Homo sapiens: one gene and its partners. The protein of the gene in region 1 interacts with the protein of each later gene in a pairwise test. Each region holds a gene or a part of one and is shown in the gene's direction. Other genes may lie near its edges. The genes, in order: HUNK, EFNA1, CXXC5, TTC28, MGAT5B, APPL2 and ARMCX4.

What was found.
Region 2: the proteins of HUNK (region 1) and EFNA1 interact in a two-hybrid assay, tested with the Homo sapiens proteins (one large-scale study listed by BioGRID and IntAct).
Region 3: the proteins of HUNK (region 1) and CXXC5 interact in a two-hybrid assay, tested with the Homo sapiens proteins (one large-scale study listed by BioGRID and IntAct).
Region 4: the proteins of HUNK (region 1) and TTC28 interact in a two-hybrid assay, tested with the Homo sapiens proteins (one large-scale study listed by BioGRID and IntAct).
Region 5: the proteins of HUNK (region 1) and MGAT5B interact in a two-hybrid assay, tested with the Homo sapiens proteins (one large-scale study listed by BioGRID and IntAct).
Region 6: the proteins of HUNK (region 1) and APPL2 interact in a two-hybrid assay, tested with the Homo sapiens proteins (one large-scale study listed by BioGRID and IntAct).
Region 7: the proteins of HUNK (region 1) and ARMCX4 interact in a two-hybrid assay, tested with the Homo sapiens proteins (one large-scale study listed by BioGRID and IntAct).

What each region holds. Positions count from the first base shown.
Region 1 is NC_000021.9:32,002,020-32,004,564, forward strand, and holds the end of HUNK (hormonally up-regulated neu tumor-associated kinase), read left to right. Parts: 3' UTR 1-2,045; downstream 2,046-2,545.
Region 2 is NC_000001.11:155,126,448-155,130,675, forward strand, and holds the start of EFNA1 (ephrin-A1 isoform a precursor), read left to right. Parts: upstream 1-1,428; 5' UTR 1,429-1,530; coding exon 1,531-1,622; intron 1,623-4,228. UniProt on the Homo sapiens protein: Cell surface GPI-bound ligand for Eph receptors, a family of receptor tyrosine kinases which are crucial for migration, repulsion and adhesion during neuronal, vascular and epithelial development.
Region 3 is NC_000005.10:139,679,349-139,681,865, forward strand, and holds part of CXXC5 (CXXC-type zinc finger protein 5), read left to right. Parts: intron 1-498; exon of another isoform or gene 499-592; intron 593-1,015; 5' UTR 1,016-1,175; coding exon 1,176-2,099; intron 2,100-2,517. UniProt on the Homo sapiens protein: May indirectly participate in activation of the NF-kappa-B and MAPK pathways. Acts as a mediator of BMP4-mediated modulation of canonical Wnt signaling activity in neural stem cells.
Region 4 is NC_000022.11:28,677,041-28,681,188, reverse strand, and holds the start of TTC28 (tetratricopeptide repeat protein 28), read left to right. Parts: upstream 1-1,348; 5' UTR 1,349-1,465; coding exon 1,466-1,567; intron 1,568-4,148. UniProt on the Homo sapiens protein: During mitosis, may be involved in the condensation of spindle midzone microtubules, leading to the formation of midbody.
Region 5 is NC_000017.11:76,937,904-76,941,403, forward strand, and holds part of MGAT5B (alpha-1,6-mannosylglycoprotein 6-beta-N-acetylglucosaminyltransferase B), read left to right. Parts: intron 1-84; coding exon 85-240; intron 241-2,498; coding exon 2,499-2,645; intron 2,646-2,828; coding exon 2,829-2,945; intron 2,946-3,500. UniProt on the Homo sapiens protein: Glycosyltransferase that acts on alpha-linked mannose of N-glycans and O-mannosyl glycans.
Region 6 is NC_000012.12:105,174,988-105,177,174, reverse strand, and holds part of APPL2 (DCC-interacting protein 13-beta), read left to right. Parts: intron 1-158; coding exon 159-299; intron 300-1,092; coding exon 1,093-1,140; intron 1,141-2,187. UniProt on the Homo sapiens protein: Multifunctional adapter protein that binds to various membrane receptors, nuclear factors and signaling proteins to regulate many processes, such as cell proliferation, immune response, endosomal trafficking and cell metabolism.
Region 7 is NC_000023.11:101,488,456-101,491,955, forward strand, and holds part of ARMCX4 (armadillo repeat-containing X-linked protein 4), read left to right. Parts: 5' UTR 1-134; coding exon 135-3,500.

The sequences.
Region 1 (2,545 bases):
TTGCTGATAAATCTTAAAACAACTAAGTACGTTGCAAATAATAGTACAGGTACCATCTTTTATGTGAAGTTCTTTTTCTTTTTTTGAGACAGGGTCTTGCTCTGTCACCCAGGCTGGAGTGCAGTGGCACAATCACAGTTCACTGCAGCCTCAACCTCTCCAGATTCAAGTGATCCTCCCATCTCAGCCTCCCAAGTAGCTGGGACTACAGTTGTGCACCACAATGCCTAGCTAATTTTTTTTGTATTTTGTAGAAATGGGGTTTCGCCATGTTGCTCAGGCTGATCTCAAACTCCTGGGCTCCAACGATCTGCCCACCTTGGCCTCCCAAAGTGCTGAGATTACAGGCGTGAGCCACTGTGCCTGGCCTTATGTAAAGCTCTTGACCTAGCATCTGACTGGAAACAAGCGGGAATTGCATTGGGGGGCATTTTCTGGGCCAGTTTCCCTGCCTTATTTTACCTGCAATAGGTGTGCCTACAAAAGTCTTTCTGACATACACACTGCAGGTGGCAGTTCAAGAAGAATCAACCTTTTTCATTTGGGGATATTAGGATCTTCCTTGGAGACTCTGAAAATGGCACACAAAGAATGGCAGTTATGAACGTGACTTCTAGATTTTGTCCTTGTAGGAGGCCTTGGTCATGGATAGGGGAAGAGGGATGATGGGATGGAATGGGAGGGTGGGATCTAGATGACCTCTTGAAATTGTCCCAGTTACTGCTTCCTTCATAACTGTTCACAAAACGTTTTTCATATATACCACCTTGTTTCCCCTGGGAAGTGAGGGGACGAAGCCTTAGAGGGTGACATAGCTAGAAAGTGGAGAAGCTCACTGTTCACTGTGCAAAGCCCCAGTAGTCGGATTCCGGGGAAAAGAACAAGTATCTAGTTTTGATGACAATGTTTTCTTGTAAGAATCCCAACACTTTAGAATAGAAAAGGACCTAAGATTCTCTGGCTCAGCCCCAGCCTTTCTGAAGAAGGGAAAACTAGGGACCCAGATGGTTTAAGGACACCCCAGAGTCCCCAGATGAGCTGGCATTTGAGCTGGTCTGGAGCAGAGTTTCTCCCTCAAAGAACACAGAGAAATCAGAGAGTGGCTGCCATGGTCAGAGGGGGATGTCAACAACAGATCAAGCCGTCATCACAACAGGTATTTCTGAAGTTCCTGCAGGGACTAGGTCTTGCATTTTTAAGTCCTTTTCAAAACTGTGCAGCTTCCTGAACCTTATGCTGTTTGTCCCATCCACTCTTGAAGCTGGGGAAAGACAGCTTTCTTTGGGAACTCTGTCTTTCTCAGTTGACTTCCCAAGTAAGCAGCAAACCCCTGGATAGCCTTGTTATCTACTTTAGGTATTAAGAGGCTATTGGGTTTTACTAGATTAAATCAATAAAACATTTCCTATAGAGCCATATCATACACTGAAGCAAATTCAGAAAGAATGCAAAACTGCTATCTTTTGGGGGAGTCTGGAAGCCTGTTGGTTAGTGTATTTATTTTCTTTGTGGGGTCTTCTGTGAGCTACAGGCACAGTAAGAATAATTCAGAGCGGTACTGGGAGTTGGTTCAATTTCATGTCATCACTTTTCAATGAAGGGAGTGCATTTCCTGAGTAGTAAATGAGTATATTATTTGTGGCAGCTTTTCTGTTAAGGGAGCTTTCCAGACATCTGGTTGCAAAGACAAATAGGATATATATTTGTACTTCTTCTCTGTGGACATGTTTTTGTGACACACAGTTATCTCTAGGAGTTGACGTCTGTGGGCACTAAGGGACTGAGGTTGGGGGAGAAAGCTGAGGAGGCTTTGGAAGAGAAGGTGAGGAGCATTTCAGGATTTGCAGTCCCCCTCCACATGTATCCACATCTGAGCTGGTGGTGTTCCAATAATGAGGCATTTGGGGCAACCAATTTTGGAAGGATAGAATAGCTTTATGTGGAGCAAACTTGAGGATCAATTGGAGTTGAGTGGTTTAAAACTTAAAGATGGCACAGGAAGCTGTATCATTTACAGGTGAAAAAAATAAATGGGTCTGACTTCAGGGCCTCAGCTCTTTGTATTTCCTACTTGGAAGATGGGCTATTAGCAATTTTGAAAGCAAAGGCTTTGGTTTACATTTAAACTCTATAATTTTTTTTAAAAATGTGTTCTTTCTAGTCTTGTTACCATAGCCAGCTGGAAAGGGCAAATTGCAAGCCTATATTGGGAACAAGTCTTCTTGCCGAAAGTAGGGCAGTGAAGTTCTTGGCAGATCTGAGATGAGAATGCCTTCCCCTGACTCCTTCATCAGTGTTCAGTGCTCACCTCCTCTGGCAACCAGTATGCTAGAAGATTAGGCTTTGCTATGATCACAAATTAATTCCAAATCTCTGTGACTTGCCCAATAAAGGTTTATTTCTTAAAATATTTTTATGAGGCTGGGCTGACCACAAAACGGCTGTCTTCCATATGGTGACTCAGGGATCCAGGCTACATCCAACTTGTGGCTGTGTCCCCTCAAAATGAAACGTCTTTGGCTGCTCCAGCACAGGAAGGCACGGC
Region 2 (4,228 bases), on another chromosome or scaffold:
GGGTCCGTGGCTTCCCGCGATGCGCAGCCGCAGGGAAGGGCCGGCTGAGGATGCGCACACACACTCACAACACCAACCTGGCGCGCACACAGCCACACAACCACACACGTAAACCACCAAACGCACGCAGACACACAGCATTCGGCTCTCCCACTCCAGGCTCACTCGTGAGCCTAATCAAACACCTGCCCGCCCTCTCCACCCCAGGAGCTGACACCCGCCCGCCAAGCCCTCTCCAGACGGCAGCAGATCCAGGCGGGGAGAAGAGCCCCGAGAGGCAAATTCCAGTGGGTTTGTTTACACAGCGCGGGGGAGGGGGCCTGAGCCGGGTACTGGGGCCCGACTGACTGGGAGCCCCAGCTCAGACTGGGCCAGCTCCAGCTGTGCAGCCTGAGGACTGCGCACAAACGCCCCTCCGTTCCACCCCACCCCCGCTGCACGCCGGTACGCGTCTCCCCTCCTCTTCACACGCTGTTCACAAACATTAGCATACGTCTGTCAAAGAGTTTCACACGCTTCCACACACGCGGCTGTGATACTACTCACAAATGCTTTCATGCTAGCGCGCCATCACACGTATTTCATGTGTGGTTACAGTTTGTCACCCTTCATGCCCAGATTCTCACAGTCCATATTCAAGAGCCTGTTCGCACGGTGTACGCGTGTGTTGTTACATATACTCAGGTTATTAGCGCTCTTTGACTTATCTAAAATAAGAACGGCCCCCTCTCGAGCCCAGGGTCCCGCGTGTCGCTCCTGCGGGCAGGCACTGATGTGATGGACAGAGGCGTCCTTAGCCCCGGCCGCACACGTTACACACTCGATCACACAAAGCGTTGCACTTTATTCCCGGCATCTAGGCGATGACACAATCTCCAGAACAAAGACAACATTGACAAACCCAACAAAAACAAACAGCCGCGTGTGTGTGGGGAGGGGCAGTCAAGCGCAGAGTCCGGGAAGGGGATGGGGGAGGAGGAGAGTGTGGGAACGCGGGCGCCCGAGCCTGGGCATGCGAGGCTCAGAAAGGTGCGGGGCATGTCAACAACCTCGCACCCTGCAAGGTCCGCGCGCGGAGCAGCAAAGCCGTGTCCCGCACCCCCGCGTTCGCAGACTCGCACTTGCGAGTTCTTCCCTTCTCCCGCACGCGACTGCGCCCAGGGACGCAAGCCCACCACCGGGACAGGCTCACAAAGCTCCACGCAGACCCACAAGTGAGCGAACACACATCTCTGAGCAGATCTGCGGGGGCAGAGGAGCGCGCTTCGCTCTTTCCTGCACCCCCAGCCTCCTCGCCTCCCCACCCCGCCCCTCCTCCACCTCCCCAGCCCCCAAGCCCCCAGGCAGCCGCGCGCCGGGCGGGGCGAGGGCGGGGCGGGGTGTCGGGCGGCGCCGGCCCAAAAGGCGGAGTCGCTAGGCGAAGGGGCCAGATCTGTGAGCCCAGCGCTGACTGCGCCGCGGAGAAAGCCAGTGGGAACCCAGACCCATAGGAGACCCGCGTCCCCGCTCGGCCTGGCCAGGCCCCGCGCTATGGAGTTCCTCTGGGCCCCTCTCTTGGGTCTGTGCTGCAGTCTGGCCGCTGCTGATCGCCACACCGTCTTCTGGAACAGTTCAAATCCCAAGTAAGCCTCGAGACTCCCGCTGGCAGCCTGGGCTCCCGGCTGGCACTACCCCACCGGGATAACTGTCCCGGCCAAACCCTGAGCTGAGCCTAGAGTAGATGACCGAGGTAGGAGGGCGGCTGTAGATTTTCCTCCCCTCACTTCTCCGTCATATCTGGGAGCACCCCACCCCGGGGCATGCTTGTGTCTACTTGCATGGGCTTATATCTGCCCTTCCCTTCCTTCTCTCTGGCACCCCTATTACTCTAAAGTGAGGGACTCATGCTGGGCAGTTCCTGCCTTCAGCATAGACTTCGCCCCTGGCAGCCAGGGCCCTTGTTCCAGGCCCCCCACCCCCCCACTGTGAAAGCCTCCACGCCTCTCCTTGTGTGTCCTTTGGGTATCTGACCACACTGACAGATACCTGGTGTGACATCAAGAGTGCACAGAATGCTCAAGGTAACCCTGGAAGGACCTCTCAGGAGAGAGCTGGGCTGTAGGCATTCATTATGCATTCACCCTGTATTTAAAGCAAACCTGGAAAGTCCCTCACTAGGGGTCTTTTGGGGTGGCATGAGTGAGGCACATGCTGTGCATGGGTAGGCTGAGGGAATCACCTGTTTATGGGGCTCTCAAGTAGTAAAAGCGAAGAGCTGGGAGAGGGAGATCATGGGAAAGCTTCAGAATGAACAGAAGAGGTTAAAGGGGTTACAGAAGGTTCTGGGCAGGAAGGAGTTAATTTCTCCTGGGCAGGTTTAGGGCTGTGAGGCAAATGGTACTGGGAGGAAGACTCTGTCGGCCCCTTTGTTCTTGCCCTTGAGTTTTCTGAAGTTATGGGAACAATATTTGAGGGAATACAGGAGAGGGTGGTAGGGAGGAGCAGGGAGAGAAGTGGGCAGCTTGGTATCACGAAAGCCATCTCACCGGCTTAGCCACTCTCGGCCCTAGCAAGCTTGCCCCCCACTCCCCTTGAGAAATATGTTGTGCCAGCTTCCTCTGACCCCGTGTCATCGTCTGGTGAGGCAGTCTGTTGTCTGTGGCTTGTTAGGGTGGGGGAGAGAACAGCCAGCTGCCAACCCCAGAGGGCAATGCCCTCCTGCCCATGGACGCTGGGGAGGCTCAGCCAGCCCTCCGCCACCCGCTCCCTGTGCTTTGCCTCCTTGACCTGATGCATCTCGCCCTAGTATGGGAGAGAGCAAAGTCCCTGTTTATGCCCATGCCAGGTGTTGACTGGAGGAGGAGGAGGGGACAGGAAGCCATGAGTAGGGAGGGGGGGACCCTGGCCTTTTCCGTTCCCAAGCTCCCAGGTTTCCTCTCTTTCAGGAAGGAGCCTCTTCCTTACCCACCTCCCCGCCTTCCCTGACGCCGCTGCCCCCCTTTCCCAGATGGGGAGCAAGAGTCAAATGAAGGCTAAGTACAGCAGACTGTACCCCCAGGAGAGGGGGCTGATGGGTGACCCTCTGGCCACACACACACACACACACACACACACACACACACGCACACCCTATCATACCCAGGACTAAAGAGACGCCAGTCCAGAGTAGAGTCCGTAGGCAGCCAAGCTGGGCCCAGCGTGGGGGCAAATATGAGGCTACAATGAACGGGGTAGGTGAGGCTGGCATGGGTGACTCAGGCCAGTGGGCAGCAGCCCTGGGATCTCCAGGCCTCAGGCGGGGGCAGCATGCTGAGAAGGGCGCCAGCCTCCCTCATGCTGGAGGGCAGGCCCCTCATTCTGACCTGCCAGCTCCCTTTGTTTGGAGGACACTGTTGGGGGTGAGTGGGCGCTGTGCCCTCCTGGGGTCCTGGGGGCTGTGCACATTTGACAAGGTAAGTTTTCACAAGTTCTCATGAGTGCTGGGGCGGGTAGCAGAGGTGGATGAGGAATGAGTCAGTGCCCGTCACGGGAATGAGGGAAAGACGCCAGGCCCAGAGCTGAAATACCTGTTCTGAAATGGCTTCTATGTTTATCTCTCCAGAGAGGAATTTTAAAAGCCTCTCTCTGCTCCTCTCTTTTCCCCAGGGTGGGGGAGGGGCCTGGTAAGCCCAGTTTGGGCGCTGGCACGCTGCTGCAAAGCCTGGCCTCTCAGGGGTCATGCTGATTGGGCAGTGGGTGCCCACCTCCGAGTCCTCTCTGCCTGACTCCTTCCTCGCCCTCCCAGCCGTGGCCAGGGCTTTCAGTTCGAAGCAACTTAGCGCTAATTCTGCTGGGTCTCTAGCTGGCAGTGCCTGGGGGAATTAGAGAAACTGACCAGCTTGCGGGGTCGGGGGAAGCACTTTTCCCCCTACTGGGACCCCACCCAGGCTGGAGCCAGGTGTCTGGAGCTGGTGGGGAGGGGCTGGTGGGCAGTCAGGCTGGAGCCGGTGGGGCCAGGGGGAATGAACTAGGGGAGGGGTGCTGGCTCCACCTTGGGAGGAGGGGAGAGGAGGGGAGAGGGGGAGAGGAGGAGAGAGGGGAGAGAGGGGAGAGGGGAGAGGCTGTCTCAAGCTCAAGCTCAGAGCTCCAGCATTTCATCTAGGGGGAGGTGGAAGTGTGGCTTTTAGAGATAAAAGGACAGGGTTGTTTTGGGGTGCTCTGAGAAGGGGAAAAGGAGACCAGTGTATAACTTTGAGTAGCTAGAACGGGA
Region 3 (2,517 bases), on another chromosome or scaffold:
GCCAGGGTGTGCACAAGCATGTCCTCTCACTGTGGCAGGGGACGGCTGGTCCTCTGGCCCTGTGCTGCTCGCCCTGTAGCAGGCGGGGAGAAGATCCCTGAAATAAGGGTTCTGCACTCATTGGCAAACTGGGTTACACAAAGGCAACCAGGTTCCTTTGCCTGCAGGACATGTCAGAGCCTTGAAATAACTGATGTGTATTAGTAATCCCCAGATGAGGATCCAGGGGCAGCCTTCCAGACTTAATGATCTGTACCATCAAGCACTCTTCTCCTCAGATGGAGAAGGAAGATTAGGATGTGGAGGTGGTTTTTTTCTTATTTTTATTTTTTTGACAGGATCTCACTCTGTCATCCAGGCTGGAATGCAGTGGCATGATTATAACTCACTGCATCCTCAACCTCCTGGGCTCAAGCAGTCCTCCCACCTCAGCCTCCTGAGTAGCTAGGACTACAGGCATGTACCACCACACCTGGTTAACTTTTGTATTTTTTGCAGAGATAGAGTTTCACCATGTTGTCCAGGGTGGTCTCAAAACTCCTGAGCTCAAGCGATCTGCCTGCCTCTGCTTCCCAAAGTGCTGAGATTACAGGTGTGAGCCACTGCACCCAGCTAATAAGCATCTCCAACACTCTCCCACCCCAGCACAAGAAGGACTGCCTGCTTCTGGCAGGTCTTCCTAGACCCTAGCAGAGCAGATTTGGGCTGTGGAGGCCTGGACTAGGGCCTCCACCATGCCGCTTGGTGGCTGTGTGTTCATAGACTGGTAGTTCTCCTAAATCTTGTTTCCCTCATCTATAAAGTAGATTACCAGCCACTGCTTCTAGAGTTCTTGTGGGTCTTAACTGAGATAGTACAAATAAGAAATTTCTCACCAGGATGGATCTGGTGCTTAATAAATGCCTGGTCAAGCACATGGTGGTCAGGATGACAGGACCGTTGATAGTGGCGGTGGTGGCGATGTTGAAGGGGGAGGTGTTCACTGCTGCCCTGACCCTGTATCCTCTTGTGACAGAGTGAAGACATTTCCACCTGGACACCTGACCATGTGCCTGCCCTGAGCAGCGAGGCCCACCAGGCATCTCTGTTGTGGGCAGCAGGGCCAGGTCCTGGTCTGTGGACCCTCGGCAGTTGGCAGGCTCCCTCTGCAGTGGGGTCTGGGCCTCGGCCCCACCATGTCGAGCCTCGGCGGTGGCTCCCAGGATGCCGGCGGCAGTAGCAGCAGCAGCACCAATGGCAGCGGTGGCAGTGGCAGCAGTGGCCCAAAGGCAGGAGCAGCAGACAAGAGTGCAGTGGTGGCTGCCGCCGCACCAGCCTCAGTGGCAGATGACACACCACCCCCCGAGCGTCGGAACAAGAGCGGTATCATCAGTGAGCCCCTCAACAAGAGCCTGCGCCGCTCCCGCCCGCTCTCCCACTACTCTTCTTTTGGCAGCAGTGGTGGTAGTGGCGGTGGCAGCATGATGGGCGGAGAGTCTGCTGACAAGGCCACTGCGGCTGCAGCCGCTGCCTCCCTGTTGGCCAATGGGCATGACCTGGCGGCGGCCATGGCGGTGGACAAAAGCAACCCTACCTCAAAGCACAAAAGTGGTGCTGTGGCCAGCCTGCTGAGCAAGGCAGAGCGGGCCACGGAGCTGGCAGCCGAGGGACAGCTGACGCTGCAGCAGTTTGCGCAGTCCACAGAGATGCTGAAGCGCGTGGTGCAGGAGCATCTCCCGCTGATGAGCGAGGCGGGTGCTGGCCTGCCTGACATGGAGGCTGTGGCAGGTGCCGAAGCCCTCAATGGCCAGTCCGACTTCCCCTACCTGGGCGCTTTCCCCATCAACCCAGGCCTCTTCATTATGACCCCGGCAGGTGTGTTCCTGGCCGAGAGCGCGCTGCACATGGCGGGCCTGGCTGAGTACCCCATGCAGGGAGAGCTGGCCTCTGCCATCAGCTCCGGCAAGAAGAAGCGGAAACGCTGCGGCATGTGCGCGCCCTGCCGGCGGCGCATCAACTGCGAGCAGTGCAGCAGTTGTAGGAATCGAAAGACTGGCCATCAGATTTGCAAATTCAGAAAATGTGAGGAACTCAAAAAGAAGCCTTCCGCTGCTCTGGAGGTAACGGCGCCTTAGAGGGAGGTGTGTGGGCTCTTGTGTCTGTCTGGCAGTCCAAACCCACCCCCATCCCCTGACCCCACTTTTCCTACCTGGGCAAGTGTCTGGGGGATGCCCCCTCCCAGTCCTTGGGGCCTGGGGGTCTGGCTTCAAGACACCAGTTTACTGCCCCAAAAGTCAGAGCCACATTCTGAGAATCCTATCAGGCCATAATTTGCAAGGCAAGCATAAAACTCCAGGCAAGGACCTAGCATTCTCAGCCAGGCCCTGGGATTCTGATTCCTCTCCTGGGTTCTGGGTCAGGTATTGAGATTTCCATACAGGTCCTAAGTTTCTGATGCTCAGACATGGCCTAAAGCATCCAGTCCATGACCTAGAACTCTGGGTCTCTCCCCTGCCCTGTTTAAGGGATTCTGTTTCA
Region 4 (4,148 bases), on another chromosome or scaffold:
TACTGTACCTTCTCTATGTTCAGGTACACAAGTACTTACATTGTGTTATAATTGCCTATAGTATATTCAGTAAAGTATCAGGCTGTAGAGGTGTGTAGCCTAGGAGCAATAGGCTACGCCATACAGCCTAGGTGTGTAGTAGGCTATACAAGGCTATACAAGGTTTGTGTAAATGCACTTTGCTGTTTGCACAATGACGCAATCACCTAAGGAGGCATTTCTCAGAACCATCCCGTGATTAAGAGAGGCATGATCGTACAGTCATCATCTCCCTGAAAGCTCAGTCAACCCTGTGCAGTGCTACTGCCACACTCCCCTTTTGCACATGTAGAAATCAAGGATCTTTGGCTCCTCTGAGTGACTTGTTCAAGGTTTCTCAGTTTTCAAGAGATGGAGGCGGGACTTGAATTGAGATTTCCCTTTCTTGAGAACCTGTGGTCCTTAACCATTAAAACCACTTAAGAGGTCTTCTCTCTTGATCACTACCTACTAAGTGCTAGGCGCGGTGCTGAGGCTTTCTCTTATTATTATATTGAGTCCTTATATTTAGGAGAAACAGGCCGTGCGCGGTGGCTCACACCTGTAATCTCAGCACTTTGGGAGGCCGAGGCGGGAGGATCACGAGGTCAGGAGATAAAGACCATCCTGGCTAACATGGTGAAACCCCATCTCTACTAAAAATACAAAAATTAGCCGGGCGTGGTGGCCGGCGCCTGTAGTCCCAGCTACTGGGGAGGCTGAGGCAGGAGAATGGCATGAACCCGGGAGGCGGAGCTCGCAGTGAGCTGAGATCGCGCCACAGCACTCCAGCCTGCGTGACAGACCAAGACTCCGTCTCAAAAAAGAAAAAAAAAAAAGATTTAGGAGAAACAAGTCCCGAAGCCCTGACCCTAACACGCAAGGGTTAGTGGAGATGTGGGACTTGAACTCAGCTTCTCCGTTGAGTCTGGCTGTCTCCGGGACGCAGGCACGTGCTTGCACACCTCCACGATGGCGATCCCGCCCCCTTAGTAGCGTCCTTAACTCGACACTTCTTGCGGGGAAGTTCCTCTTGGCCCAGACCGTCGTCCCAGGCCCCGCGTCGTGGGGGAAGCGAAAGCGGCAGTGTGGGGAAATGGCCGAGGGGTCGGGTCCGGGGTGGTCTGCAGAGAGGCAGGCGGCGGTGCGGAGCCGGGAACCGCGCGCTCACCCGCCGAGTCCGACGGGCCCGGCGGGGGTGGGCGAGACACTGGGAACAGCGGCCAGCTCCAGAGGGCGCGAGGCGGGGCGCGCGGGGAGGGGGCGCGGCGAACGCGCGCGTGCGCGGTGCATGTGTGGGCCCGCGGGGGCGCGCGCGCGGTTTGGGGGCAGTGAGGGGCGCCGCGGCGGCGCGCAGCACGGCGGGAACATGGCGCGCGGAACCGGCGCGCGCGCCTAGCTGGCGGGACCGTTAGCTCGAGGCGGACGCGGCCCGGGCCCCGTGGGGATGGAGCAGTCGCCGCCGCCGGCGCCCGAGCCGACCCAAGGGCCGACCCCCGCAAGGAGCCGAAGGCGGCGGGAGCCAGAGTCGCCGCCGGCGTCGGCGCCGGTGAGTGCGTGAGGGGCTCGGGCCGGGAGACTTTCTTTGTGAAACTCCGGCGGTGGGAGCCGGGCCGGGCCTCAGCGGCAGAGGAGCGCCTGCGAGGCGGAAGGCGTCTCGCAGTCCGGGTTCGATCCCAGCCGCGAGCCGTGAGGCGGCGGGACCTGGTCCGCCGCCTGCCTGGCTCAGTTTCCGCGAGAGTGTGTGTGGATGTGTGTGGGTGTGTGAGGGTGTGTATGGGTGTTGGCCTGCGCACACCGGGGTGGGGGGTGTCGGTATACAGTCAGCGCCTAATGCGCCCAGCGCCTCCCCTTTTCCCCCAGCCCCCGTGGGGCGGAATCTGGGGACTGGAGTCCACCGGAGCGGTAAGCGGCACCCGCGGTGAGACAGGTGTCGGCGCAGCCCGGGATGCTCAGGTGCTACCTTTCCGGGGTGGGGTTTGTGAGGAGTGAGCTCTTCGTCCCCGGAGGCGAGCAAGTCTGTCGGTGGCTCATCAAAGAGCGTTGTTTTGAAAAGCGTTCCACCCACCTCAGCTTCGTGCTGTGTTTGGGCCACTAGTCAGGGGGAAGGATGCTGAGCGACATGGACTTTAGAGGTGGGGCTCCCGCTGGACGGGATGTCTCTGGGCTCTCGAGCTTACCCCCACCCTTGCCTCCCAAACCCGTTAGAGCGTAGGAATCATTGGGAGCACCTGATCAAAATGCCACGGACTGTGGCTCACCACAGCAGGGAAGCCGATTTTGAACTTAAACAAGCTCCGAAGTTGTGATCAGGCGAGCTTGGCAAGCACTGTTTTAGAGAGTAGGCTTCCTGCAAGCAGGAGCCGGTTTTGTGTATACCTCACCATGGCATCTTGGTACCTGGCATGGTGCCTGACACACTGTAGATGATCAGAAAATATCTGTAGAAAGTCTAAATTATTAGGGAGAGTGCAGCATAGGAGTTCTTGAGACATTTTCAGGAGCTTCTTGAGATTAATATCTCAGATTTATTTTACAGTATATGATTTTTCTCAGCTCCCAACTTTGTGATTGTGTTCAATGCCATGTTTTCAGTATGTTTTAGGCAAAAGCAGGGTACATGTTGCTTAGTATACACTATCCACTAGGCCGGGTGCGGTGGCTCACTCCTGTAATCTCAGCACTTTGGGAGGCAGATTGCTTGAGCCCAGGGGCTTGAGGCTGTAGTGAGCCAAGGAGTTAGAGACCAGTGTGGGAAACATAGCGAGACTCGTTCGTCTCCGCAAAAATTAGCTGGGTGTGGTAGAGTGCACTTGCAGTCTCAGCTACTCTGGAGGCTGAGGTGGGAGGATCGCTTGAGCTCAGGAAGTACAAGTTGCAGTGAGCCAAGGTTGTGCCACTGCATTCCAGCCTGGATAACACAATGAAACCCAGTCTCTTAAATAAGTAAATAAATACATAAATGATTATGTATACTCCAGCTAGGTTAAAATTAATTCTGAATCAAAATTCTAAATTAAAATATGCATGTTTCTTTCTCTTCATCATTTGGGAACACTAGGCTTTTAGGATTTCATTCCATTGGGGCAGGTAAATATCTACATTTATGACAAAGCAAATATGAATTACTGTTAATTCAAGAAAGGTGGGAATTTGCTTAAACCTGAGTATTTGTAGTCTTTGTGATTTTTTAAATTTTTAATTTAAATTTTCTTCTTTTTCTTTTTTTTTTTGAGACGGAGCCTCACTCTGTCTTCCAGGCTGGAGTGCAGTAGCACAATCTCAGGTCACTGCAACCTCCACCTCCCGAATTCAAGCGATTCCCCTGCCTCAGCCTCTGGTGTAGCTGGCATTACAAGTATGTGCCACCATGCCCAGCTAATTTATGTATTTTTAGTAGAGAGGAGGTTTCACTGTGTTGCCCAGGCTGGTCCCAAACTCCTTGACCTCAAGTGATCTGCCCACCTTGGCCTCCCAAAGTGCTGAGATTACAGGTGTGAGCCACGGCACCTGGCCTTATTTTTATTTTTTTGAGACAGAGTCTCAGTCTGTTGCCCAGGTTGGAGTGCTGTGGCATGATCTCCGCTCACTGCAACCTCCACCTCCCAGATTCCAGCGATTCTAATGCCTCAGCCTCTTGAGTAGCTGGGGTTACTAGACCCGGCTAATTTTTGTTGTATTATTTTAGTAGAGACTGGGTTTCCCTATGTTGGCCAGGCTGCTCTGGAACTCCTGGCCTCTGGTGATCCACCTGCCTCGTCTTCCCAAAGTGCTGGAATTACAGGCGTGAGCCACTGCCCCCAGCCAATCTTTGTGATATTTTGAAATTGAGGTTTATATTTTGTTCAGAGTCAAAGCTAAAATAGAATTGTTTGAAAATTAATATTTCAGGAACTATTTTTTAATTAAATTGAATTTTATTTTATTGGTTTCATTTCAGTAGGGTTTTAACTTAATATATATGTGTGTATATATATATATATATATATATATATTTTTTTTTTTTTTTTTTCCTGAGATGGAGTCTTGCTCTGTCACCCAGGCTGGAGTGCAATGGCATGATCTTGGCCTCACTGCAGCCTCCACCCTCCTGGCTCAAGCAATTCTCCTGCCTTAGCCTCCCAAGTAGC
Region 5 (3,500 bases), on another chromosome or scaffold:
CTTCCAGACCAAAGGGATCTCCTCCATGGACTTTGCCTTCTGTGGTTTGCATGTGGTTCCCATCTCCTCCTCTTCTTTTTCCAGGGGAAGGAGAAGTTCCTGGGCATCCTGAACAAATACATGGAGATCCATGGCACCGTGTACTACGAGAGCCAGCGGCCCCCCGAGGTGCCAGCCTTTGTGAAGAACCACGGCCTCTTACCGCAGCCTGAGTTTCAGCAGCTGCTGCGCAAGGCCAAAGTGAGCTCCCATCCCCCGCACCATTCTCACACTTGCCGGCTGCAGACACTGAGGTCACCACCCATGCCTGCCACCACCACTCAGGCCCCTTCCACATATGGACATACCCCAGCATGCTCTGCTGCCCTGAGCCCCACATCTGGCCAGAGCCCAGGGGCAGAGATGTGGGTGCCCACCAGGCAGGAGAGGTCCTATAGAGAAAGGGACCTGGGCAGGGCCAGCAGAGCAGCAGAGCCGTGGCTCAGTGATGGGGAAGTAGAGTTGGACTGCCCATCCTCCCCCTTGCAGTACCAGTCCAGCCAAATGGACTCCTGGGTCAGGCCTAGCTTTTGGAGACACTGAGCTGGGGGGTGGTTGGGTGGGTGGAGAGAAGGGTCCTGGCTAGAGTGCCATTGAGCCACTAGTCCTGAGTGACTGCTTCAGGGGTCCCTGAGCTGTACTGCTGGAGCAGCAGTTGACACAGTGGGCAAAACCCTGACTGGACCCTGGAGTATCAGCTGAGGCTGGAGAGTCTCCAGCCAGCTTCTAGGCACCCCCTCACCCTCTTTTTTATGAGACAGGGTCTTGCTCTGTCACCCACGCTGGAGTGCAGTGGTGCAATCAGGGCCCACTGCAACCTTATATTCCTAGGCTCACACAGTCCCCTCACCTCCACCTCCCGAGTAGCTGGGACTATTGGCATACACCACCACACCTGGCTAATTTTTAAATTTTTTGTAGAGATGGTGTCTTCCTACATTGCCCAGGCTGGTGTCAATCTCCTGGGCTTAAGCGATCCTACCACCTCGGCCTCTCAAAGTGCTGGGATTACAGATGTGAGCCACTGCACCTGGCCCCAGGCCCTCTCTTGATCTCACCATAGCTTGTTTCCCAAGGCATCTTGGGGGTGTGTGTGTGTGTGTGTGTGTGTGTGTGTGTGTGTGTGTGTGTGTTGGGGGCAGTGGAGATGCTTGCATGCAGTGAATAACCTGAACAACCTCACAGAACAGCCCTGGATTCAGAATCATTTATTAAGTGCCTTTGAGGCCAGCCCTGTGCACTCCTAGCACAAGTTACTTAAAAAATAATAATTTTGGCCAGGTGCGGTGGCTCACACCTGTAATCCCAACACTTTGGGAGGCCGAGGTGGGCGGATCACGAGGTTAGGATATCGAGACCATCCTGGCCAACATGGTGAAACCCTGTCTCTACTAAAATACAAACAAACAAACAAACAAAAAATCAGCTGGGTGTGGTGGCGGGCGCCTGTAGTCCTGGCTACTCAGGAGGGTGAGACAGGGGAATTGCTTGAACCCGGGAGGCAGAGGTTGCAGTGAGATGAGATGGTGCCACCGCACTCCAGCCTGGTGACAGAGCAAGACTCCGTCTCAAAATTTTTTTTCAACTTTTATTTTAGGTTTAAGGGGTACATATGCAGGCTTGGTACCTGGGTATATTGCATAATGCTGAGGTTTGTGATATGAAGGATCTTGTCACCCAGGTAGTGAGGATAGTACCCAGTAGTTAATTCTTCCGTCTTTACCCCCTTCCTCCTCCCCACTCTGGGAGTCCCCAGGTGTCTGTTGTTGCCATCTTTATGCCCATAAGTACCCAATGTTCAGCTCCCACTTATAAGTGAGAATATGCGGTATTTGGTTTCTGTTCCAGCTTTAATTCACTTAGGATATTGGCCTCCTGCTGTATCCATATTGCTGAAAAGGACATGATTTTGTTTTTTTTTATGTCTGCGTAGTATCTTATGGTGTCTATGTACCATACTTTCTTTATCCAAGCCACCGTTAATGGGCACCTCCGTTGGTTCCATGTCTTTGCTGTTGTAAATAGCCTCACACAAGTTAGATGCTGAATAAATGTTTTTGGGATGAGTGAGTGAGGTTCCTGGAGGTCTCTTGCAGGTGCGGGCCTGCAGCTTTCTTGGCCTGAAACCCTTGTTCTTTTCTTCCTCCCTCCACAATCATAAATCATAGCCTGATAGAGCAAGAAGAGACCATTGATAATACCTAATTAGACCCCCTTATTTCACAAATGGGGAAACTGAGGCCCAGAGAGGGGAAGTGCTTGCCCGTGGCACAAGATGTTCTGGGCTGGCTTTTCCAGCCCTGTTATAGCTCACATAACAGGCTGAGCAAAAATAATCGCTCCAGGCCCAGCTGCCTCCTGTGAATATCCCGAAGCCTCACCTTGTCCCCGGCATCCTGGTGCTTACTGGGCTGTGGCGGCCCAGCCCTCCCTGATCACTGCGCCCCTTGACTCTGCAGCTCTTCATCGGGTTTGGCTTCCCCTACGAGGGCCCCGCCCCCCTGGAGGCCATCGCCAATGGTTGCATCTTCCTGCAGTCCCGCTTCAGCCCGCCCCACAGCTCCCTCAACCACGAGTTCTTCCGAGGCAAGCCCACCTCCAGAGAGGTGAGTGGAAAGCATCCTGGTCCCCGATCAGGAGGGGCCGGGACAGAGACCCCTGCAGGTCCTGGAAGAGGCAGACTGAGATGTGGGGCAAAAGGAGATAGGACAAGTGTATGGGGTACCTTTCTTTGTCCCTGTCCCACTGGCAGGCACGGGGGGCATCTGCAATCTCTGTACCCTTGCCAGGTGTTCTCCCAGCATCCCTACGCGGAGAACTTCATCGGCAAGCCCCACGTGTGGACAGTCGACTACAACAACTCAGAGGAGTTTGAAGCAGCCATCAAGGCCATTATGAGAACTCAGGTGAGAGCAGCCACATACAGTTGAGACCCCCCACTAGTCCACACTGCTGGTCTTCACTCTGATTAGAAAACGGTGCCCCCCTCTGGGTGAGTTCAGACTTGCAGGCCTGGGTTGGCAAAGGTGTCCATCCCTCCCCTGGTCAGACACAGCCCTGAGCCAGGGCATGTGGATTGGAGAATGGAATGGGGGATCCCATTCATCTACTCAGGTGTGATGTGTGGGGAATGCCTTTGTGCAGTGAGCAACCTGCACAACCTTACATGGCAGCCCTGGATCTCAAATTGTTTATGGAGCACTTTTGAGGGCCAGGTGCTAACTGAATGTTTTCACGATGGATGTGTGGAGGTTCTTGAAACTGCTGCAGGTGTGGCTTTGCAGCCTTTACACAGCACATTTCAAAATATAATGTGCATACAGAGCGTCTGTTAATGCGGGGCAACGCTTCGAGTAGCAAGGGGGCAGAACACCCTGGGTCTCCAGCGAACGTGGGTGCTGGTGTGTGTAGGTGCACATGTGTGGGCTGGGTGAGAGTGAGGAGGGGCTTGTGCCTGATGC
Region 6 (2,187 bases), on another chromosome or scaffold:
GTATCTACCTTAAACACAGCCTAGGCACTTTATTAATAAAGATCTGCCACTAATAGGACTAATAGGATACTTTTTCTCATGACTTTTCCAGAGAGTAGCCTTGTCAGTTTTTAATTCTAGTAGTTGTATGATCTGTTGCCTTTTTTTCCACCCCCCAGTTTGAACTTACCAGTGTCACACAATTTGCTGCTCATCAAGAAAACAAGAGACTGGTTGGTTTTGTCATCCGTGTTCCTGAATCCACTGGAGAAGAATCTCTGAGTACATACATTTTTGAAAGCAACTCAGAAGGCGAAAAGGTCTCTTTTTCATGTGAAGATCCCATAATATCCCAGTCCAAACAAGTCCATTTTAAAAGAGTTTTCTGGCATTACTTCCTTGGATATTTAGTTGATTATTCTGCATGTCTCCATCCAGGAGTTCAGATAATACCTCCTAAGAAGGCCTCACTGAAAGAAAACTCGATTTAAATTTCTCTGTGGAAAATACCTATCAACCAGAATAGGGTGAATGAGGAAGAAATTTCATGGCAAGACATATTATTTAGTCGGGATATAAGGAAATGTTGAAAGCAGTTCCCCTCAAATTTGTTCTTTAAAAAAAATTAAGGCAAAAGCTACAATAGAGAATAATTTAGTCTCAGAGAGAAAACCAAGGAAGATATTAGAAAAGTTACACACAAGCTGTTGGTTTAGTATGAAAAACTTTTGACTCTATCTGCTACTTAGAATTTATCACAATTAACCAATCCTTTCAGTAAATTATCTGTTTGCCACTGTGTATATGGACATATCGTGGCTAAATACATTTAAGAGAGAGAAGAAAAATTCCTATTAAGAACTTTTAACACTGGAATTACCTGAGTTTCACTTACCTGGAATATTTTTTGTGTGGCATAAATTGGCAACAGAGGTCAGGACAGTTGGACGCAAATGCCCCGGGCCCTATGTGATGAGTCTCCTGCAGCCAGGTCCTGTGTTCCCAAGTGGGAACAGTGAGAACAGTGACCTCACTGTACTCCCAAATCACATTTGTTCTAAAATTTTATCCTTCTCTACTTTTGCCAATCACTACTTTTCTTGTCTTTTGCAGATATGTTATGCTATTAATTTGGGAAAAGAAATTATTGAGGTTCAGAAGGTAAGATGCATTCTAGCGCTGGTTTAGTAGCTACTCAAAACACATCTGTGTACACATACCAAGAGTCTTTTCAAAAAGAAAAGTGATGTTCACTGGAAAGTGTGGCCAAGTTTGGGATTTCCTTTTAAAAGTATTCTAACCACCAGAGGTTTTTGATCAGCTAGTTCCATGTTCACTGTTAACACATGAGGACTTCTTATCACTGCTGGAGCTCCTGCTTATCTGTTTTCTTGCTTGCATACTAGTTGGCTAGATTTCCTCTTTCAGATTAAGATGATAGATAAGTACCCACCGTGTGCTGCTCTAAGGCCTTGCTCCTCAGAGTATGATCACATGCCCCACAGCATTGACAGACGTCACCTGGGAGCTTTTAAGAAATGAGGATTCTGAGACCTCCCTGTCTTTCAGCAGCTTTTAATCTTTTGTTCATTCAGCAAATTTTTGAGAGCCTAGTTTGTGTAATTGAACAAGACAGATATAGTCCCTGCCCCCAGGGGGCTTCTAGTTCAGCAATGTACAGAACTTTCTGCAATAATGGAAATGATTTATATCTGCACAATTTAATATGCAGATTGAATATGGCAAGTGTGACTGAGGAACTGGATTTTTAAATTTAACTCAAATTTACATAGTAACATGTAGCCAGTGGCTACCATATTAGTGCAGTTCAGTCTTGGAGAGGTCAGAAAGACCAAGGACTAAGGCCACATACATGAAATAGTGGCAAGCACTGTAAGCTAGTATTTAATGGTATTGGTCAAAAGTTGGCAAACTTTTTCTATAAAGGGTCTTTATGTTTTTGGCTATCTCCCTTGCAACAGATTCAACTCTGCTATCATAAGACAAAAGCAGGCCAGGCATGGTGGCTTATGCCTGTAATCCCAGCACTTTGGGAGGCAGAGGCAGGAGGATCACCTGAGGTCAGGAGTTCAAGACCAGCCTGGCCAACATGGTGAAACCCCATCTCTACTAAAAATACAAAAATTAGCCGGGTGTGGTGGTGCACACCTGTAGTCCCAGCTACTCGGGAGACTGAGGCACAAGAAT
Region 7 (3,500 bases), on another chromosome or scaffold:
AGGCAGCTGTAGTGGCCTTTGAGTGGCTGAAGACCAGCACCCTCACAGGCCTACACCCACAACTACCACTCTCTTTACCCCAGCCCGAGTGCGCTCTACCATACCTTGTTCGTGCTTTTAGCAGGGGTGATTACATGGGCCGCATTCAGGAAGTGGGCTGGGTGACTGCAGGACTGGTGATCTGGGCTGGCACCTGCTACTACATTTACAAATTTACCAAGGGAAGAGCCCAGAGTGTGAGGACTCTTGCCAGAAATGGATCCACAGTTAAGATGGAGACTGTGGTTGGGGTACAGAGCCAGACCTTGGCCATAAATGAAGCAGAGATTAAGACTAAACCCCAAGTCGAGATTGGAGCAGAAACTGGAGCAAGAAGTGGGCCTAGGGCTGAAGTAGAGACCAAGGCCACTGCTATAGCCATACACAGAGCCAACTCTCAGGCCAAGGCAATGGTTGGGGCAGAGCCAGAGACTCAATCTGAGTCCAAAGTGGTGGCTGGAACACTGGTCATGACAGAGGCAGTGACTCTGACTGAGGTCAAGGCCAAAGCCAGGGAAGTGGCCATGAAAGAAGCAGTGACCCAAACTGATGCTGAGGCTGGCAAAATAGTTAAGAAAGAAGCAGTGACACAGACCAAGGCTAAAGCTTGGGCGCTGGTTGCCAAGACAGAGGCCAAGAGAGAAGCAATGACCCAGACCAAAGCTGAAACTCATATATTGGCTGAAAAAGAGACAGAGATTAACAGAGTAATGGTTACACAGAGTGAGACCTTGGCAGTACCCAGGGAAGTGGCCAAGATGGGGGCCACGAACAAGACTGGAATTGTGGATGAAACCAAGACAAGAGCTCTGGAAGAGACTGTGAGTGTGGCTAAGACTCAGTCTGAGGCCAGGCCTGGTGCCACAGTTGATGCTAGGGGAAATCCCAATGGCATGTCCAGGGAGGTGGCTGGAGTGGACATGAAGTCCTGTGCACAGTCTCAGGCTGTGACCAAGATCCAGGGTGATGACATGCCTGGTACTGGGGTTGAGGACATGGGGAATTGTAAAACCATGTCTAGGGCAGAGTCTGGGGCAGACACGAGGGCTTCTGCTCAGCCTCAAATTTTTGCCAAAACCCAGACTGAGGCCATTCCTGGGGCAAAGATTGATGCCGGGGGTAACACCAATGCCATGTGTAAGGTGGGGGCAGGGGCAGATGTGAGAGCTTGTATACAACCTCAGACTGTGGCCAAGAAACAGGCTGAGGTGACGTCTGGTGCCAGGGTTGATGGTAGGGGAAATACCAATGTCATATCTAAGGCAATAACTGGAGCTGACATGAGAGCTGCTGCTCAGCCTCAAGCTGTTGCCAGTACTCACGCTGAGGCCATGTCTGATGCTAAGGTTAAGAACAGAGGCAATCCCAATGCCATGACTAAAGCAGGGGCCAAGGCAAACTTGAGGGCCAATTCCCAGGTTGAGGCCTTGCCTGATGCCAGGGATAAGAGCAGAGGCAATCCCAATGTTATGGCTAAGGTGGGGGATGGGACAGACATGTTGTCCTGTACACAGCCTCAGCTTGTGGCCAGTGTTCAGGCTGATACCTTGTCTGATGGCAAAATTAAGGTCAGGGGCAATGTCAATACCATGCCTAAGGAAGGAGCTGGGGTGGATATGAAGGCTCAAGGTATGGCCCAGAGCCAGGGTGAAGCCTTACCTAATACTAGAGGTAAGGCTAGGGGCAAAGCCAAAGCCAAGTGTAAGACAGGGCCTGGGATGGACATGAAAACCTGTACACAACCTCAGGCTGGGGTCAAGACCCCAGCTGAGGCCTTGCTTGATTCCAGGGTTGATGGTAGGGGCAATCCTAATGCCACTTCTAAAGCCGGGACTAAGGCAGACCAGAGGGTCTGTGGTCAGCCCCTGGTTGTGGCCAATCCCCAGGGTGAGGCCTTGCCTGGTGCCAAGAATAAAGTCAAGGGCAATCCCCATACTGTGCTTAAGGTGGGGGCTGGAGAAGGTACAACAGACTCTGCCCAGCCTGAGGCAGTGGTCAGTTTCCAGGGTGAGGCCTTGCTTGGCACCAAGAATAAAGTTAAGGGTAATCCCAATGTTGTGCTTAAGGCAGAAGTTGGGGAAGGTGCAATGGGCACTGCCCAGCTTCAGATTATGGCCAGTTCCAAGGGTGAGGCCTTGCTTGATTCTAAGAATAAGGTCAAGGGTAATTCCAATGCTGTGTCTAAGGCAGGGGCTGGGACAGATACAACAGGCTCTGTCCAGCCCCAGATTGTGGCCAATTCCCAGGGTGAGGTCTTGCCTGGTGCCAAGAATAAGATCAGAGGCAATCCCACTACTGTGCCTAATTCAGGGGTTGGGCCATATACAACAGACTCTGCCCGGCTCCAGGCTGTGGCCAATTCTCAGGGTGAGGTCTTGCCTGGTGCCAAAAATAAGGTCAAGGCCAATCTTAATGCTGTGTCTAAGGCAGAAGCTGGGATGGGTGCAACAGGCTCTGTCCAGCCCCAGGCTGTGGCTAATTCCCATTGTGAGACCTTGCCTGGTGCCAAGAATAAGGTCAGGGGAAATTGGAATGCTGTGTCTAAGGCAGGGGCTGGGATGGATACAAGGGGCTCTGCCCAGCCCCAGGCTGTGGCCAATTCCCAGGGTGAAGTCTTGCCTGGTGCCAAGAATAAGGTCAAGGGCAATCCCAATGTCGTGTCTAAGGCAGGGGCCAGAGAAGATACAGTGGGCTCTACCCAGCCTCAGGTTTTGGCCAGCTCCCAGCGTGAGACCTTGCCTGGTGCCAGGAATAAGGTCAAGGGCAATTCCAATGTTGTGTCTAAGGCAGGGGCCAGAGAAGATACAATGGGCTCTGCCCAGCCTCAGGTTGTGGCCAACTCCCAGCGTGAGACCTTGCCTGGTGCCAGGAATAAGGTCAAGGGCAATTCCAATGCTATTTCTAAGGCAGAGGCTGGGGCAGGCATAATGGGCTCTGTCCAGGTCCAGGTTGTGGCCAGTTTTCAGGGTGAGGTCTTGCCTGGGGCCAAAAATAAGGTCAGGGGCAATTCCAATGCTGTGCCTAAGGCAGAGGCTGGGGCAGATACAGTGGGCTCTGCCCAGCCCCAAGCTGTCGCTAATTCCCAGAGTGAGACCTTGCTTGGTGCCAGGAATAAGGTCAAGGGCAATACCATTGCTGTGCCTAAAGCAGGGACTGGGGCAGGCACAAGGCACTCTGCCCAGCCTCAGATTGTGGCCGGTTCCCAGGGTGAGACCTTGCCTGGGGCAAGGGACAAGTCTATGTCCACTTCTGAGGCAGAAGCCACAGCAGAAGATGAGGCCTATGCAAAGCCTGAGGCTGAGGCCATGCCCACTTCTGAGAGTGAGGGTGGGTCAGGCACTCAAGCCTGCAGAAAGACTCAGCCTAACATCCATGACTACTACTGGAATGGGATTGGTGTTGAAGACTGGATTGCTGCTGAGCGGTGGATCAAATTTAGGTTTCAGACCATGGATGGAGAC